Homo sapiens: one gene and its partners. The protein of the gene in region 2 interacts with the protein of the main gene of each other region in a pairwise test. Each region holds a gene or a part of one and is shown on either strand. Other genes may lie near its edges.

Region 1 (3,500 bases), on a different chromosome or scaffold from region 2:
TTCCCCCCATGTAATTTTTTTTGTTTAGACCGAGTCTTGCTCTGTCACCCAAGCTAGAGTGCAGCAATCTCGGCTCACTGCAACCTCCACCTCCCGGGTTCAAGCAATTCTCCTGCCTCAGCCTCCCAAGTAGCTGGGATTACAGGCGCCCGCCACCACGCCCAGCTAATTTTTGTATTTTTAGTAGAGACAGGGTTTCGCCATCTTGGCCAGGCTGGTCTCGAACTCCTAACCTCAGATGATCCACCCGCCTCAGCCTCCTAAAGTGCTGGGATTACAAGCATGAGCCACCACGCCCAGCCCCCACGTAATTTTTTTAACACACCGTTCTGTACCTTTCTTTTTCTCAAAACTACTACTAACTCAGAGCTCTCCCACAGCAGCACATGCCTCATATACTATATGGCCCATAATTTGTTTAACCAGGCCCTAATCATCAATAAACATTTAGGTCACCAAACTTTTGCAACTGCGAACAGGACTACAACAAGCATCTTTGTTCTCAGGTCTTCATGCACTCATGCAAGTTTAACCATAAAGTAAATTCTAAAGAGGAACTGCTTGGTCAAAGGGTTCCTGCATGTTAAATGCTAACAGGCACTGCCACACAGCCTTCCACACAGGCAGTGCCCACCAACACTTCCACCACCAACATATGGGTGTCCCTGGGAACCCACAGCTTTTACCCAGCATGGTATCCATTCTCTTGCTCTCCAAGAACATCCAGAGCACCTCCTGTCCCTTTGACAATAAACTACTTTTCTTCTCAGGTAAAACAGTCCCAGGAAAACAGAGGCAGGATGTGTTCTAAGTAACCCCTCTTCCCATAGGTAAGGGAAAACATGCACATTCATTATCATCATGGAAGTATGAACTAGTCTTATCTTTTTAGGAACTGATATTTGGCCGTAAATATAAAAAATCTTTTTTTAAAAAAAGTGCGGCCAGGCATGGTGGCTCACGCCCGTAATCTCAGCACTTTGGGAGGCCAGGGCGGGCGGATCACAAGGTCAGGAGTTCGAGACCATCCTAACACAGTGAAACCCTGTCTCTACTAAAAATATAAAAAATTAGCCAGGCATGGTGGCACGTGCCCGTAGTCCCAGCTACTCAGGAGGCTGAGGCAGGAGAAACAGTTGAACCCAGGAGGGAGAGGTTGCAGTGAGCCATCGCACCACTGCACTCCAGCCTGAGCGAGACTCCGTCTCAAAAAAAAAAAAAAAAACAACGACAACAACAAAATGCACCACCTTTACCTAGCAATTTGACTAACAGGGATTTAACACGTAGAACAGAGATTTTTCATCTGGGGTGGTCTGTGTTCGATGAAAAAACTACAGCTCCTATTTTCAGTAACCTGGAATTGAAATTTAGCATTTACATCAATTACATACAATGGCAACAAACCACACAATGTTAGCTGTGTCACTGGCTCTTTCACAGCACATTACAGCTATAGGTATCTCAAGGCAGCATTTACACTCACTGCTACTTGAAAATTAGATTCTCAGACTACCTACAAAGTCTTATTACCTAAATATGTTAACAAAGAAACATATGCACCAAAATGTTCTTTTTAAATATTCTGATAACTGTACTTCAATAAATTGTCCTCTTTGGAATCCTATGTATTTTGTTTTATGCATTTCAGAAGATGATTCTGAGAAGGGAACAGGGTTTCACCAGACTACAGAAGGGGCCGTAGCACGAGAAAAGTTAAGAACTTTGGTCCTTCACGCCTGTAATCCCAGCATTTTGGGAGGCCAAGGCGGGCAGATCACGAGGTCAGGAGATTGAGACCACCCTGGCTAACAAGGTGAAACCCCGTCTCCACTAAAAAATAGAAAAAATTAGCCGGGCGTGGTGGCGGGCGCCTGTAGTCCCAGCTATTCAGGAGGCTGAGGCAGGAGAATGGCATGAACTTGCAGTGAGCCAAGTTCATGCTACTGCACTCCAGCCTGGGCGACAGAGCGAGACTCCGCCTCAAAAAAAGAAAAAGAAATGGAACTAAAAGTAGAAGCTCAGCCTCTGCTCGGCACTGGCCAAGCACTATGACATACCAGCCTCGTCCAGAATGAAGCCTCCATGGCGGGGTTTCTTGGGGGGTCGGTCATCATCTTCTTCCTCCTCTTCCTCATCGTATTCCTCCTCCTCTTCCTCCTCCTCTTCGTCCTCAGGCTCTTCTTCTTTCTCACTGCCCGCTGCACTCCGCCGCTCTTCGTCTACCTACAGGGGTCAGGCAGGGTTGTAGCACCAGAATTCTGCTACCCCAAAAATCCAAAAACCAAGTTCCTCACCCTAAATCTGACCTCAGATTGGCCTGGCCAATCATAGCCCACTTTGCTCTGCATATATCCCTTTCACTCTAGCCTGGCCTCTCTGGTTACCATCCTATCTCAGCGACAGCACTGCCATCTCCCCAGCCACCCAAGCAACCCTGGGAGTTGACCCGGGCTTCTCCCTGCACTAGACCTCTTGCTCACTTTCCACCGAGTCTTTAACTATAATAGCTTGATGAAGCTTGGTCCTTGGGCCTCATTTCTTTCTCTCTCTTTTTTTTTTTTTTTTTGAGACAGAGTCCCACTCTGTCTCCCAGGCTAGAGTGCCATGGCAGAATCTTGGCTCACTGCAACCTCCACCTCCTGGGTTCAAGCAATTCTCTTGCCTCAGCCTCCTGAGTAGCTGAGATTACAGGTGTGCGCCACCACACCTGGCTAATTTTTGTATTTTTTTAGTAGACACGTGGCTTCACCATGTTGGCCAGGCTGGTCTCGAACTCTTGACCTCAGGTGATCCATCCGCCTCTGCCTCCGAAAATGCTGGGATTACAGGTGTGAGCCACAGCACCTGGCCCATCTCTTCCCATTCTACAACTCCCCAAGGCCATCTCGTCCTCTCCCTTGGCGGTGGTGGACATCTCTGTGACAGTGACTCCCATCTCTGTTTCTAGTCCACACTGCTCACGAAGATCACTGGCCACCCCTGTTGCTAATTCTGTGGCCATTCTGTATTCCCTACCATCCCAGCAGCATCTGGCACCCCAACCATGCCCTCCCTGGAGAAATGCTCCTCTCTTGGCTTCTGCCGTATCATGCTCTCCTGGTTTTTCTCAAAACTCCACCAGCTCCTCTTCAAGCTCCTCTTACTGTTAACCCCTTCAAATCTGACATCAATTACCAGGGCTCAGTCCAGGGCCACTTTGTTCTCCCTCCATGCCCTCTCTCCCTGTCCATTTTACTTTCCATGACCTCAGTTCCTGTCTCTAGAGATGACACGTGTCCTCATCTGTCTATAGAGTCCCACTTTTTTCCAGAACTCAAGACCTCCATGCACCAGCAGCATCCTGGATGCCTCCCCTAGATGGCCTCTGAGCCCTTTCATACTCACTGTGTCCCAAACTGACCTCAGTGTCTTCCCCTAGACCTGTGATGGCCTCCTCCAATTACCGACAGGCACCAAATCCTCATCCTTTCTGCCTGTAAACATCATTTCTCCAACCC
Region 2 (3,500 bases):
ATCCAGATGTAAAGTCAGATTCCAGAAGGAACGAAGAACAACAAATACAGTGACTATAAGGGTGAAAATCTAAATATCTGACTGCACAAAACAATGGGTTGTGTGATTTAAAACAGAAATAATTAAAACAAATGACAACAATAAATGGAGTTAAAGTGTGTTAGGATCCTTGCACTGTCCAGGAAGAAGGTAAAGTACACATTATCATTAGTCTTTGGTACAACATGAATGCCTGCTTTAAATTCTAGGGTGACCACTTAAAACTGAGAAAAGAGCATATAACTTTCAAGCTAATAGAAGAGGAAAAATAGGATAATAAAAATTAACCTAAAAGAAGACTAGAGAGAAAAATGAACAGAGAATAGGCAATTTGAATATATAGAGTAAGATAGCAGATTAAACCCAAATGTATCATATTTCATTAAATGTAAATGGACTAAATGCTAAATAAAAAAACAAAACCCAAGGGCACCTAGGATCTCTGTATTATTTCCTGCAACGGCATGTGAATTTATAATTATGTCAAAATAAAAAGTTTAATTTGAAAAGTAAAGAGGCCAGGTGCAGTAGCTCATACCTGTAGTCCCAGCACCTTGGGAGGCCATCATGGGAGGTTTGCTTGAGCCAAGGAGTTCAAGACCAGCCTGGGCAACACAGCAAGACTCCATCTCTATAAAAAAAAATAATAATAAGTATATAAAGATCAGAGATCTAAACTTAAGAGCTCAAACCTGGCCGGTTGCAGTGGCTCACACCTGTAATCTGAAACACTTTGGGAGGCTGAGGCAGGTGGATCACCAGAGCGCAGAAGTTCAAGACTAGCCCAGGCAACACGGTGAAAACCTGTCTCTACAAAAAAATACAAAAATTAGCTGGGCCTGACTGCGCATGCCTGTAGTCCCAGCTACTTGTGGGGCTGAGGCAGGAGGATCACTTGAGCTGGAGAGGTCAAGGCTGCAGTGAGCCGTGTTCACGCCACTGCACTCCGGCCTAGGCAATAAAATGAGACCCTGCCTCAAAAAACAATAAACAAACCAACAAAAAAACCCTTTAAAACTCTTAGAAGAAAATCTAGGGAAAAAATGTTCATGACACTGGATTTAGTAAAGATTTCTTGGATATAGCACCAAAAGCACAGACAAAAAAAAAAAAAAGATAAATTGTACTTCACTAAAACTAAAATTTTTGTACATCAAAGAGCATGATCAAGAGGGTGAAAAGACAACCCACAGAATAGGAGAAAATATTTGCAAATCACATATCTGATAAGGGATTAATATCTAGAATATATTAAAAAACCCTAGGCCGGGCGCGGTGGCTCATGCCTGTAGTCCCAGCACTTTGGGAGGCCAAGGCGGGCAGATCACGAGGTCAAGAGATGGAGACCGTCCTGGCTAACACGGTGAAACCCTGTCTCTACTAAAAATATTAAAAAAATTAACTGGGCATGGTGGCAGGCACCTGTAGTCCCAGCTATTCGGGAGGCTGAGGCAGGAAAATCACTTGAACCCGGGAGGCAGAGGTTCCAGCGAGCCGAGATCGCGCCACTGCACTCCAGCCTGGCGACAGGGCGAGACTTCATCTCAATAAATAAATAAATAATAACAAATGTTGGCAAGGATGTGGAGAAATTGGAATCCTTGTGCATTGCTGGTGGGAATATAAAATGGTGCAGTTGCTACAGAAAACCGTTTGGTAGTCCTCAAAAAAGTAAAAATAGAATGACCGTATGATCCAGAGATTCTACTTCCTGGGTATATACCCAAAAGAACTGAAAGTAGGATTCAAACAGATACTTGTATACCAATGTTCACTGCAGCACTATTCACAATGGCAACAGATGGAAACAACCCAAGTGTCCATTACGAATAGATGAATACACGGAATGTGGTCTAGACACACACACACACACACACACACACACACGAATATTACTCAGCAACAAAAAGGAATGCAGTACTGACATATACTACAGTATGGAGGAACGTTCAACATATGCTCAGTAAAATAAGTCAAAGAAGACAAATATTGTATGCCTCCATTTATCATTTATGTGAGATGCCTAGAATAGTCAAATTTACAGAGATGAGGTAGAATGGTGGTTACCAGGGACTGTGGGGATGGGAGTGATTGTTAAATGGGTAGAGAGTTTCAGTTGGGATGAGCAAAGAGTTCTGGAGACAGACGGTGGTGATGGCTACACAGCAATGTGAATGCACTTAATGCCACTGACCTGTACACTTAAAAATGGTTAAAATGGGCCAGGCGCAGTAGCTCACGCCTGTAATCCCAGCACTTTGGGAGGCCAAGGCAGGAGGATTGCTTGAGGCCAGGAGTTCGAGACCAGCCCGGGGCAGCATAGTGAGACCCCAGCTCTACAAAAAATTAAAAAAAAAAAAATTAGCCAGGCACAATAGCACATGCCTTGTAATCCCAGCTACTCAGGACACTAAGCAGGAGGATCACTGGACTCCAGGAGTTCGAGGCTGCAATGAGCTAGGATTGCACCACTGCACTCCAGCCTCCGTGACAAAGTGAGACCCCCCCCATCTCTAAAAAAAAAAAAATTTTTTTTTAATTTTAAAAACTGGTTAAAATGGTACGCTTTGTTACTTTTTTTTTTTTTTTTTTTTTTGAGACAGAGTCTTGCTCTGTCGCCAGGGTGGAGTGCAGTGGCGTGATCTCAGCTCACTGCAACCTCTGCCTCCCTGGTTCAATTCTCCTGCCTCAGCCTCCTGAGTAGCTGGGATTACAGGAACACGCCACCATGACCAGCTAATTAGTTGTATTTTTAGTAGAGACGGGGTTTCACCATGTTGGCCAGGATGGTCTTGATCTCCTGACCTCGTGATCCACCTACCTCGGTCTCCCAAAGTGCTGGGATTATAGGCGTGAGCCACCGCGCCCAGCCTGTGTTACATACATTTTATCACAATAGAAATATTTGAGAAATTTGACCAGATGCAGTGGCTCACACCTGTAATCCCAGCACTTTGGGAGGCCGAGGCAGGCAGATCACCTGAGGTCAGGAGCTCAAGACCAAGCCTGGCCAACATGGTGAAACCTCGTCCTACTAAAAATACAAAAATTAGCCGGGTGCGGTGGCGGGCGCCTGTAGTCCCAGCTACTAGGGAGGCTGAGGCAGGAAAATCACTTGAACCCGGGAGGCAGAGGTTGTGGTGAGCCGAGATCGCGCCACTGCACTCCAGCCTGGGCAACAGAGTGAGACCCTGTCTCAAAAAAAGAAAAGAAAAGAAAAGAAGAGAAAGAAGAGAAGAGAAAAGAAAAGGAAGAAAGATTTGAGAAATTTTCTTGCATGTGCAGATGTGTACGTACAACAGTGGAAACATTTTTTTACATAGCCATGACATCTTTTAAATGCCATTGTCAGGCTGGGCGCAGTGGCTCATGCCTGTAATCCCAGCACTCTGGGAGGGCAAGGTGGGTGGACTGCTTGAGCCCAGAGTTCACGACCAGCCTAGTCAACATGGTGAAACCCT
Region 3 (3,500 bases), on a different chromosome or scaffold from region 2:
GGCTGACATCATTATCCCCATTTCTCAGAGGTGCCACCTGGAACCCAGGCTGTCTGACAGCGCACATGGGTTCCTTGGAAGTCACTCCACTCCTCTGAGTCTCAGTTTCCTCATCTGTCAAACAGGGGTGACAATTACCACTTGCGGGGGGGATATTGTGAAGATTCACGAAATGTTTAAAAAGGACCTGGCCTGAAGCAAGGGCCCAAAAAGATGCCCCAAAAAGGAATCCCTGGTGCCCCTCTTCTCTGCCAGGAAGGGGCGGATTCTGCCCTGCTAGCCCGGGCCCCTACATGCCATTGTACCTGTCACCATGACGGCGCGGATGCGGGTCCTTCGCAGAGCCTGGATAACTGGCGTTGTCTGCGGCTTCAGTAGGTTCCTCATGACCAGCAGCCCCAGGAGGCTCAGGTCTCCTTCCACAGTGTCCCTGGAGGGTGGGCAGACCTGGATCAGAGGTCATGCAGTGGCCAGGGCCCCTCTCCCAGCCACCAGGCAGGGCATCTTCCTTGGGCTCTGCCTGCGTGAGAGCCTCCCTCTGCCTAGTCCTCAGAGTGGGTGGGACAGGAGACAGGCCCACCTCGTCAGTTGCTGGGCTGCCTCCAGGCTGGGCACAGTGGGCAGTGGCTTGCTGGCCAGGGCCACGACACGGTAGCCAGCAGCTGTATAGCTCTGCAGCATCTGGGCGAAGTCGGTGGGCACTGCCAGGGAGAGGCAGGTGTCACAAGGAGGGGATGGCAGGGACAGAGGCTGGGTACCCACCCCATTCTGTGCCAATGCCCAACCAGGGGGACTCAGGGGCTTCCCCCTGCACCTGTCTCGGGGTTGCAGAGCCCTGCCACCAGCTCCGGGGAGCCTTTGACGTAGGCCTCGGGCTGAGTGGCCCCTGGCCACGCCACCACCACACTCATGCGCTGCAGAGCCGAAGAGAAGGGGAAGCGGTGGAGGACGCTGACTGGCACCGGGGGCTCCTCCTGCAGGGTTGGAGAGGCAGCTGAGGTGCTGGCTGGGGAGCCCACCCCTCTGCCCTGCACCCAACAGGCCCCCCTCAGCTCACCATTGCCTGCAGCTGGGGCTCCCAAAGTGGGGGTCTCATCACTGCCAAGACCTGGGTCCCAAATGCTGAGTCTGCAGCCGGCTCTTCCTCCAGGACCTGGCAGGCAGGCAGGGAAGTTTGGTGTCTGGGGGCTTTGGCTCACAGAGAGATTTGAGCTAGACTCAGGGAAGACTTCCTTCATGGGAGACTGAATGGTGGGTTAAGAATGTGGGCTTTGGAGCCCGGTGGACTCAAATTCAAACTCTAGCTTTGCTACTTACAAGCTGTTGGGTGACCTGGAATACGTCACTCCAAATCTCCCAGCCTCAGCATCCGTGAAGCAACATTTGAGCTTGCTTGCTAGGGCTTGGGGAAGAGGAAATGAGACCAGGCCTCTGTGGCCGTGCGCTGGCGCATAGTAGGCACTCAGCCTGAGGCCTTGCCATTATTATTATGTTACTTTTATTTTAAGACAGAGTCTTACTCTGTGACCTAGGCTGGAGTGCAGTGGTGTGATCTCGGCTTACTGCAACCTCTGCCTCCCGGATTCAAATGATTCTCCTGCCCTCAGCCTCCCAAGTAGCTGGGACTACAGGCATGTTCCACCGCACTTGGCTAATTTTTGTATTTTTATTACAGACGGGGTTTCACTATGTTGGCCAGGCTGCTTTCAAACTTCCGACCTCAGGTGATCTGCCCACCTCAGCCTCCCAAAGTGCTGGAATTACAGGCATGAGTCACTGCACCTGGCCTATCATTATTATTTTTTGAGACAGGGTCTCGTTCTGTTACCCAGGCTGGAGTGCAGTAGCGTGATCACAGCTCCCTGTAGCCTCGCCCTCCCGGGCTCAATTAATCCTCCCACCTCAGCCTCCTGGGACTACAGGCATGCACCACCACGCCCGGCTAATTTTTGTATTTTTGGCAGAGATGGGGTTTTGCCATGTAGGTCAGGCTGGGGTCCCGGGCTCAAGTGATCCTCCCGTCTTGGCCTCCCAAAGCGCCGGGAGCCACGTTACAGGTGTGAGCCACTGCGCCTGGCCTATTATTATTAATGGTGGGCATAATAAGAGACCACCCTGAAAGATGGAGAGGGAAGACAGGGTGGGATTCGTTAGGCCCCACTGCCCAGAGGCAGGGGGCTGACCTGCTTGGCCTCCTCACCCAGCCAGTAGACTCCACCATCTTCAAGTCCATGGGGTCGCCCACGGGGGTGTCCTGGAGCCGGCTGAGGGCATGGCAGGTGGCCAGTGCTCGGAGCAGGGGCCCCACAGGCAGGCGGCGAGGCTCTGGGACCAGGGGCAGGAATGCCTGCCCCTTCAGGGGCACCACCCCCATCACGTCTAAGCCGTCCTCAGTGAGGGTGCCCGTCTGTGGGAGACAGGTGGGTGGGGCAGCGATGAGTCCTGGGATGGGGGTACCCTGCTGAGCTGGGCCTCCAAACCCCAGGCCCGGCGGACCCTATGGGAACCCCAGGAACTCGAGCTGGAGCCAAAAGATGACCTTTCTTGACTGCTGTCCTTGGCACATGTGATTCCCTCTGCTGGGGTCCCCCTCCCCAGCCCCCACCGTCTCTCTGTCTAGCATCATCTCTTCCAGGGTGTCTTCCTCCTTAACTCCCAAGTTAGGGCAGGTGGTTTGCTCTGGGCTCCTACCCATGGCCTCTTCACTTCCCCACACTTGTGCATTGTGGTTAAGGACCCGGCCCACGGTTGGCTCGCTCTCTCTCTCTCATTTATTTATTTATTTATTTATTTATTTTTATTTTTATTTATTTTTATTTTTTGAGATGGAGTCTTGCTCTGTCGCCCGCGCTGGAGTGCAGTGGCGCAATCTCAGTTCACTGCAACCTCCACCTCCCGGGTTCAAGTGATTCTCCTGCCTCAGCCTCCCGAGCAGCTAGGATTATAGGCACGCGCTACCTCGCCCACCTAATTTTTGTATTTTTAGTAGAGACGGGGTTTCACCATGTTGGTCAGGCTGGTCTCGAACTCCCGACCTCAGGCAATCCACCCGCCTTGGCCTCCCAGAGTGCTGGGATTACAGGCATGAGCCACCACGCCCAGCCTCAATATATCTGTTGAATGAGCGCATGAGTCAGTGCCTGCGTTCCCCATCCTAGACTCTAACTGCCCAAGTACGCGTCTGGCTCCTTGGCTAGCCTGGGAACTATAAGAATCTGGTCATCCCCCTCCCCGGTTTATTTATTTTTTTTTGAGACGGAGTCTCACTCTGTTGCCCAGGCTGGAGTGCAGTGGTGTGATCTCAGCTCACTGCAACCTCTGCCTCCCGGGTTCAAGCGATTCTCCTGCCCCAGCCTCCCGAGTAACTGGGACAACAGGCATATGTCACCGTGCCTGGCTAATTTTTTATATTTTCAGTAGAGACGGGGTTTCACCATATTGGCCAGGCTGGTCTTGAACTCCTGACCTCATGATCCACCCGCCTCGGCCTCCCGAAGTGC

Evidence for each region. Proteins that work in one complex are often made in the same cells at the same time.
Region 1: the proteins of LMAN2 (region 2) and SUPT5H interact in a two-hybrid assay, tested with the Homo sapiens proteins (one large-scale study listed by BioGRID and IntAct).
Region 3: the proteins of LMAN2 (region 2) and ATP13A2 interact in a two-hybrid assay, tested with the Homo sapiens proteins (one study listed by BioGRID and IntAct).

Annotation. Positions count from the first base shown.
Region 1 is NC_000019.10:39,452,082-39,455,581, reverse strand, and holds part of SUPT5H (transcription elongation factor SPT5), read right to left. Parts: intron 2,227-3,500; coding exon 2,061-2,226; intron 1-2,060. UniProt on the Homo sapiens protein: Component of the DRB sensitivity-inducing factor complex (DSIF complex), which regulates mRNA processing and transcription elongation by RNA polymerase II.
Region 2 is NC_000005.10:177,341,669-177,345,168, forward strand, and holds part of LMAN2 (vesicular integral-membrane protein VIP36 precursor), read right to left. Parts: intron 1-3,500. UniProt on the Homo sapiens protein: Plays a role as an intracellular lectin in the early secretory pathway. Interacts with N-acetyl-D-galactosamine and high-mannose type glycans and may also bind to O-linked glycans.
Region 3 is NC_000001.11:16,991,429-16,994,928, forward strand, and holds part of ATP13A2 (polyamine-transporting ATPase 13A2), read right to left. Parts: intron 2,408-3,500; coding exon 2,201-2,407; intron 1,154-2,200; coding exon 1,058-1,153; intron 975-1,057; coding exon 815-974; intron 702-814; coding exon 581-701; intron 431-580; coding exon 306-430; intron 1-305. UniProt on the Homo sapiens protein: ATPase which acts as a lysosomal polyamine exporter with high affinity for spermine. Also stimulates cellular uptake of polyamines and protects against polyamine toxicity.